Regions from separate parts of the Homo sapiens genome. Here regions 2 and 3 are each linked to region 1. Evidence: fine-mapped expression QTL. A gene starts in region 1. Each other region holds a variant in brackets. All regions are shown on one strand. Distances are between the middles of the regions.

Region 1 (2,705 bases):
TATTGACGATTCACCTACTACTTACAGCACAACTTCCAGGAACAGTAGCTAAAACCCTCCACACATCTCAACTGAGAAACAACCAAAAAATAACCTCGCGGGAAACCTCAGAAGCGCAGCCCAATTCCCCACCCCCTTCCGCCCAAATCGCCTCAATATGGAAAGGCAGCTGAAGGACACTCCTACAATTTGGTTGTTTTCGTATTTTCAGTACCAAATGCTCGCGACTGAAGTGTCTAAAAGGGCAACCGCCTTGTACTTGTGCAGCTACACTCCAGTTGCTTTACAAACTCTTCAAGCAGGGATGGAAACTTAAAAGAATATTACACCCTGTGAATAAAGAGATACTGGGCTGAAGAATGGGGATGGCAGACCCAGAGGCGGCGGCGGAGGAATACATCGAGAAAGTAACACAAAGCGAGAATTGGGCGGGCAGGGTGGTCAACGCCAAAGCAGCAGCATCGGGGTGGTTTCTCCCCCAAGGATAGGAAGTGAACAGGGCTGGCAACCTCGCGAAGGGAAGGGTGTGGTTCCCCGCGGACAGGGTGGGAAATCCAGGCTGAGGGCAGCGGTGGAATTGGGCGATGGCAAAGGAAACCCCTGGAAATTTCCAATCTAAACCGGGACCGCTCAACCGAAAGAACACCAGAAAGGCACTGCCTAGCAGGGTGCTGCTCAATGTCCCCTCTTCTCGAGGTGACTTGTGGCACCATCGACGAGCTTTTGATCGTCCTCGGGTGATGCAAAGTGAGGATATGATTACATCGGAACGGCACCCCCGCCCTAGATTGGCAGAGAAGGACCAAATCTGGCTAAGGGGAAAAGACTGGGGGGGGAGATGAAGGAGGAGATGGAGGGGAAAAAGGAGAGGCGATGAGCTGGAATTAGGGGAGAAAACCGCTGCAAAGGAGTGAAAGGGCAGGGATTCCAATGCAGTCCATTCCACGACATTCTAAGCGCGCACGTGTGATAAAAGCGCCTGGAGAGAGTGGAATGCTAGAACATTTACGAAATAAAAACAAAGCAAGAAAGGCAGCAAAAAGCAAGCAAGGGAGGAGGAGGAAATGTTCGGGAAGCGGACAACAGCGGAAAACCCGATGTGATCAGATGCCAGTAGACCACGAAAAGCTTAGCAATGTCACTGATGTAATGGGGATGGTTCGAGGGAAGGGAGGGAAGGAGTGATACAAGGTAGAGGACGGCGCGAGACCCCAAGGGGGCATCTGCCAAGGTAGAACGGGACACCGGTACCTGTGCTGTCGGCCACGTTGCCCACGGAAGACGCCATCTGGAGCTTCTCGAGGGAGAGCAAAAAAGAGGTAATTGGTCCTGCTGCCGCCACTACCAGCAAGAACGTATTTGGAGGTAGTAGTACAAGGGCAGCAGCCGTAGCAATGCTCTGGAGGGCTTGAGCGGCGGCAGCAGTTACAGGCTTCAAACCCTGGGAACTCTAATTGACCATCTACCTAGTACGGTCTTGAAATGGCGGCGACGGCTCCTCGGCCGAAACAACATGGGCCGGAACTACTTTCTGTTACAATCAAGTGCCCGCGCGGAGGTAGCCGGTAACCAGCGCCGCCAACAAAATGACTTCAAGCTGCAAAGTCGAGATTCCATGTAGTCCTCCGCGCAGCGCCCATTGCGACAAACACCACGGTGGAGACCGCGCATGCGAGCAGCCCTGTCAACCCGACTCGTGGTTAGGGCACTCTCTGGGGCGGAAGCGGCCAAGTTTCTTAAGAGTGTAGCGGAAGGGTAAAAACAAACACACACGGGACGGATACGTTTTTGCCACCGCGATTAAGAAGAGTGTTTGTTACTTAGCAGGTGGTGTCGTTTTAAACATAAATGCCAAAGGCGTCTAAAAAAGTTTATCAACTGTATTCGTACAAAAACGGATGGTTACGACTCTCACGGATCAATTCTGAGCCAGTCAATTCAGAAGATTGCCTCTCAAAGACAGCTGCTCAAAACGAGGAGCGAGAGGGTTCCGATTTGAGCCCGTCTTCATTGTGACTCGGCCATCGATTTCAGCACTTCGATGAAAAAGACTGAAGCTTTCACAGGGCCAGTTGAATGCAGACACCTTCAATGTTGGCCGTATAGCCTGAAATTTCAAAATCGTTTTGGTATTCAGAATACTCCTGCCCACGGTGATAGGGCAAATGTTTAATAACTCAGGGACATGCTGGGCGTTTGCACTCCGAAGGCAGCCATAAAAATGTTAAAGGTGATTCACGTTCGTCAAAATCCATGACTCTCCTCGAGTTGTGACTTCATTTCCACCAGCTAGCTCTGCACATTGTCACAGTCGGCGATTCCACTGAGCTCAAAGCAGATCAACAATGATAAATGAATTCACTTGCCATCTGCCTAAACCACACGTCTAGATTGAGTCATGAATTGCCTCTACTTCCTTGAACAAATCGGTTCTTACGATCTTCCTGCAGTTTCAAGTCTACTGTTCAGACATTTTGTCACATTGGTATTTATACTTCACCTCTTGTTCTAGAAACGACTTAAGGTAGCTTGCCACATCAGCAAGAAAGTATTACAAGCCACTGGAGGCTACAAGTTGGATCTCTGAGAGCCTTTTTATTTCAAAAAGTCCTTGATCTAAGAAAGCAGGTCAATGAATTTCTTCAAAAAGTTTTTGCTACCTAGCCCCTTCACTACATTTTTTAAAACTAAGTCCTCAAATTCTG
Region 2 (2,705 bases), 20 kb before region 1:
CAAAATATATCAAGTAATTGTAATTAATTACATAATTCATGCTGTATTATATTTTAACCTCAAACCAAAATCACACCTTTATAAAATGTGTCTTTACACTGGGAAGTTTTCTACTCCCACATAAAAAATAGGCTTTCCTTTGACAACAACAAAAAATTTAAAAGTCTGGATTTACTTTGCTTTCTAAAATCAGGTCAAAGGAATAATTTAGTCTAAGAAAGAATCATTTCAACCATTTTAACAATAAAAAAATTTCAACTAAACTCCCAATGAGAAGGATAACGGCTTTGAGGAAAGCCAACAACAAAAAGTCAGGCAACGAACAACATCTATAAATAAAAGGCAACACAGGACATGGGCAGAGAACAACGTGCTAGAAAAGGCAAATATGCTTCAATGGACTATTGTCATCATTTCGGTCCAAACTGTCAAGTGTCAATACAACAAAGATTCAAGAAAATTTATTAAACAGAACATTCTCTCACCTGTCAAAAATGCGTGCCTCTTTCAAGACATTTCCTAAATTGATATAAGCATCCAGAAAGTTTGGGTCAAGGGTGACAGCCTAAAAATTTCAAGACAGTTAGTTACTCAGAGCAAGTTAGGATTTCACCAGATCAACTTCCCAATTACAATTTTTTTACTCCAAGGTCCTTGCAGACTTTCAATTACATTTCATTTTAATAAACCAATTATTTATTTAGTGTCTTCTCATTATTTTTACAAACCTCAACATTATCAAAATAACTTCTCATGCCTCATGTTCTCATGAGCAAAATGGGTCCTGAAGAGAAAAATTAAATATTGGGCCTGCTCCAATTTCATTAAACTGAACACTTCTAATGATTGGCCCTATTTTATTCACAATTAACCAGTCTAACTCTTCTGAAAAATAGTGGCAAAAGAGGCAGCAAACTCTTACTGAAAAGGTAAATATATACCTCAGTTGTATGCATACAAACTACATGCTCAGCAAGACCTTATTAAGACATGCAATTAGAGCTGTATACACAGTAAGATACAATACTTCAAGGAAATACTAACCATTACACGGTGTCATCCAAATAGCTGTCATGTTGTCTAGAGCAGTGATTCTCAACCTTGGCAATATATTAAGAATTTACCTCCTAGAAAAGGTACC[G/T]AGGCTCTATCACAGGCCAGTTAAATCAGACCCTCTGAAGATAGGGTCAGGATATTCAGATCTTTTATAAGCTCCTCATGTATAACCAAGGAAGAGAAACACTGATCAAGAAAGATACTCCTACAGCATGGTAAATGCAAACTTCAATCAAAACACCGGCCAGGTGCAGTGGCTCACACATGTAATCCCAGTACTTTGGGAGGCCGAGGTCGGACCACTTGAGGTCAGGAGTTCAAGACCAGCCTGGCCAACATGGTGAAACCCCATCTCTACTAAAAATACAAAAATTACCTGGGCATGGTGATGTGCAACTGTAGTCCCAGCTACTCGAGAGGCTGAGGCATGAGAATGGCTTGAACCCGAGAGGCAGAGGTTACAGTGAGCCAAGATTGCGCCACTGCACTCCAGCCTGGGCAACAGAGCAAGACTGTGTCTCCAAAAACAAAAAACAAAAACAAAAAAAAACACACACACCGAAAAGGTATTTGATTAAGACACTGAGTAATTGTATGTTTATTAAAGACTGATAAAGAACACTTCATCTGCTGGGCGCGGTGGCTCATGCCTGTAATCCCAGCACTTTGGGAGGCCAAGGCGGGCAGATCACTTGAGGCCCGGAGTTCAAGACCACCCTGGCCAACATGGCGAAACCCCGTCTCTACTAAAAAATACAAAAAATTAGCCGGGCATGGTGGCTCACGCCTGTAATCCCAGCTACTCAGGAGGCCGAGGCAGGAGAATTGCTTGAACCTGGGAGGCGGAAGCTGCAGTGAGCTGAGATCGTGCCACTGCACTCCAGCCTGGGCGACAGAGCGAGACTCTGTCTCAAAAAAAAATAAAGAAAGAACACTTCATCTTCACTTAGATGACAACTCTGTAGTAAACACGGCATGATGCATTTAATTTAGATTGTCTATAGTGATAGATGTCCACCCCAAGAACTTTTAAACTTTATAATAGAAATGTTTAAACATATACAAAAGCAGAGGAACATTACGTCCAAGTCTCCATTATCCATTTTCAACAATTCATATATCATGTTTGATCTTATTTAATCTATACTCCAACTTACTCCCCCTCTTCGCAGATCATTTTGAAGCAAAGCCCAGACATATTCCATTCAAAAATACTTCAATATGTATCTCAGGGACAACACAAGAATGCTTTTTCCTCCCAACCTAACCACAATACCATTATCATACCTAACAGAAAAAAAAAAAAAAAAGACAGCAATTCCTTCATATTAAATATCAGCTGGGCGTGGTGGCTCATGCCTGTAATCCTAGCACTTTGAGAGGCCGAGGCAGGCAGACTGCCTGAGCTCAGGAGTTCAAGACCTGGGAACATGGCAAAGCCCTGTCTCCACTAAAAATACAAAAAGCTAGCCGGGCATGATGGCGCACGCCTGTAGTCCCACCTACTCCGGAGGCTGAGGCAAGTGAATCCCTTGAGCCTGGGAGGTGAAGGTTGCAGTGAGCCAAGATCACACCACTGCACTTCAGCCTGGGCGATCAAGTGAGACCCTGTCTCAAAAAAAAAAAAAAAAAAATCCATTCAGTGCTCC
Region 3 (2,500 bases), 45 kb before region 1:
CTTCTCACTGGTCTTATATGAATCCGGCCACCCCCTCCACGCTTCCTATTCCTGCCTCCAGCCTCTAGCCAATCTTCGACCAAACAGGCCTTGACCCCTCCCCAACTCCTTCCTCCTATCAGGTCTGGACCCTACCCCCACCATTCTCACCTCAGTCTTCCACCAATCAGGCCTCAACCCCACCACCCTTCCCCCACACTCGCACCTCCAACCACCTCCAGCCACCTTCAACTGCTCCCAACCGGTTTTCCAAGCAGGCTTCCACTCCCCCACACTTCTATCCAACTTCTGCCCTACCCCACTCCTGTCTCCCACCACCACTCAGTCCTCAGCCAAAGAGACCTCAACCCCCACACACACACCCCTACCCACAACCACTAGCTCCCACCTCCCCCCAATGCTGCAACGGGCACCCCCACTTCTCCCCACAGCCACTGGCACCCCCACCTCCAATGCCACCACCAGCATCCTCACTTCTCCCCACGCCCACCAGCACCACCACGTGCTCCTAGGCCACTTCCACCACCACCAAGTGTTCCTACGCCGCCACCAGAACCCCCCACTTCCCTCAACGCCCCCATTGGCACCCCCACCTTCAATGCGGCCACCGGCGCCTCCACTTCTCCCCACACCGCCAGCGCTACTATGTGCTCCTATGCCACCAACGCCACCAAGTACTCCTAGGCCGCAACTGGCACCCCCACCTCCCCCCACGCTGCCACTGGCATCCCTACTTCTCCCCACCCGCCACTAGGGACACCACCTGTTCCTACACCACCACTGGGGCCCCCACCTCCCCCCAGTGCCGCAACCAGCGCCCTCACTTCTCCCCGCGCCGCCACCGGCGCCACGTATTCCTACATAGCCACTGGCGCCACCACACGCTCCTACGCCACCACCAGCGCTCCCACTTCCCCCAAGGCCGCCAATGGTGCCCCTACTTCTCCCCACACCGTCACTGGTGCTACCACATGCTCCTACACCACCACCAGCACCCCCACTTCCCCGACACTGCCACAGGCACCCCCACTTCCCCCAACGCCGCCACTGGTGCCCCTACTTCTCTCCACCCGCCACTGGCACCAACACCTCCTTCTACGCCACCACCAGGCCCC[C/G]CACTATCTGCAATGACGCCACCAGCGCCCCTTCTCCCCACGCCGCCACTGGCACTACCAGCTGCTCCTACGCCGCCACCGGCGCCCCCACCCCTCCCAATGCCGCCACTGGCGCCACCATATGTTTCCTACACCACCATGGGCGCCCCCACCTCCCCCAATGCTACCACTGGCGCCTCCACTTCTCCCCTCGCTGCCACTTCCTCTACTCCCACCTCAGGCCTACACGGGCAACCAGAGTCCAAGGTATACAGTGGTCCTGATTTTAATTAAGTCACTCAATTAGGATTAACCTCTGGACCACTTCAGCACCCATCTCAGTCCGACCAGCCGGTCACCTACCTGGTGTTGCAGCCTCTGGCGTGGCCGGCAGCAGCTCACCTCCAACTGCCCGTGGAGTGTGTGCAAAGATCCGGAGCAACTGCGATGAACAACGCCAGGCGCAGGCCCCTTTATAGTGCCCGGACCTAGGGGGCGGTAGCAGTAATTCACGTGTGCTCGCCCGCGCTCCCCTGTACCCACCTATCACAGTGGTCACAAGACAAATTTGAACTTCGCGCCTGTGAACTTGGCGCCTAGCTGTAACGCTTCCGGGATCAGGTCTGTCGCTTTCCACTCCCACGGATGTTGCTTATTTGTCCCAAAACCGCCATTTCAATACTAGAGCGTGGGCACCCGAGGCCAATTCTGCGATTAAAAGTCCCTAACAACTTTCTGATAAAGAGAAACCATGTGAAATCGTTCATAACAAACTTTTATCCTGCGAGAACTTGGATAAGCGAGCCTTGTTCCTTACTTGAATTGTCCAGACCTCTAAGTCCGTTATTGCAACCACTGGGAAAGGGCGCGGGGGGAGGGGCGGGGGCACGAGAACTGGAGCGAAGGCGCGGGAGCAGGGGCGTGGACGGGAACACCGAGGGGAGGGCGGGGCGCGGGGGGACGCGGGAGCGCAGGGGGGCGGGGGTTGCAGGGAAGGCCATCTAGACCCCTAGATAAGAGCAAGGCAGCAACTCAACAGCGCCTGGCAACGGCGAACTATGATGTTTACTTCCAGAACCCTCCAAACCCTGGAGATAAAAAAAGGTTACTTGAGGCTTTTTGGCACTCACTCCATACACACCAAGAAAAACAAACGGGGAAAACAGCGCTTTCTAGATTGTGCCAGTTTCTCCAGCGAGCATCTATATATTTCGTAATGTATGCCTTTGGGTAACAGAACACACATAAAATGTCCCTGCGTTTGATACTATTTTGTGCTAAGCATTATTCCAAGTGTCTTACGACTTAATTCATACAACACTTTAAAAAGTAGGCAACTGTTAGCACTCTCATTTTAGAGATCACACAGCTAGAAAGTGGCAGAGCTGGCCGGGCACAGTGGCTCA

Which allele goes with the higher level. Positions count from the first base shown, and alleles are read on the strand shown. Sizes are in standard deviations (SD) of each study's normalised expression.
As copies of G replace T in region 2, the expression in sun-exposed skin of the gene that starts at base 1,484 in region 1 goes down (small effect, 0.18 SD a copy in GTEx).
As copies of G replace C in region 3, the expression in aorta of the gene that starts at base 1,484 in region 1 goes up (small effect, 0.20 SD a copy in GTEx).

The links. PIP is the estimated chance that this variant, and not a neighbour inherited with it, causes the effect.
Region 2: its variant is the best candidate, but not a certain one, in a credible set for the expression of OGT in sun-exposed skin (GTEx, PIP 0.70).
Region 3: its variant is the best candidate, but not a certain one, in a credible set for the expression of OGT in aorta (GTEx, PIP 0.56).

Annotation. Positions count from the first base shown.
Region 1 is chrX:71,531,883-71,534,587 of GRCh38, reverse strand. OGT (O-linked N-acetylglucosamine (GlcNAc) transferase) reads right to left here and starts at 1,484. Exons shown (of 22, transcript NM_181672.3): 1 at 1,252-1,484. The coding sequence starts at 1,288. RefSeq lists enhancers at 910-1,568, 1,394-1,733, 1,234-2,433.
Region 2 is chrX:71,552,373-71,555,077 of GRCh38, reverse strand. It overlaps OGT (O-linked N-acetylglucosamine (GlcNAc) transferase), which reads right to left. Exons shown (of 22, transcript NM_181672.3): 6 at 486-565. Among named protein-coding and RNA genes, the nearest start is that of OGT, 21 kb to the right of the region's middle. The variant G/T (reference allele first, on the strand shown) is at 1,142.
Region 3 is chrX:71,577,480-71,579,979 of GRCh38, reverse strand. GCNA (germ cell nuclear acidic peptidase) reads right to left here and starts at 1,543. Exons shown (of 13, transcript NM_052957.5): 1 at 1,458-1,543. RefSeq lists an enhancer at 695-1,336. The variant C/G (reference allele first, on the strand shown) is at 1,116.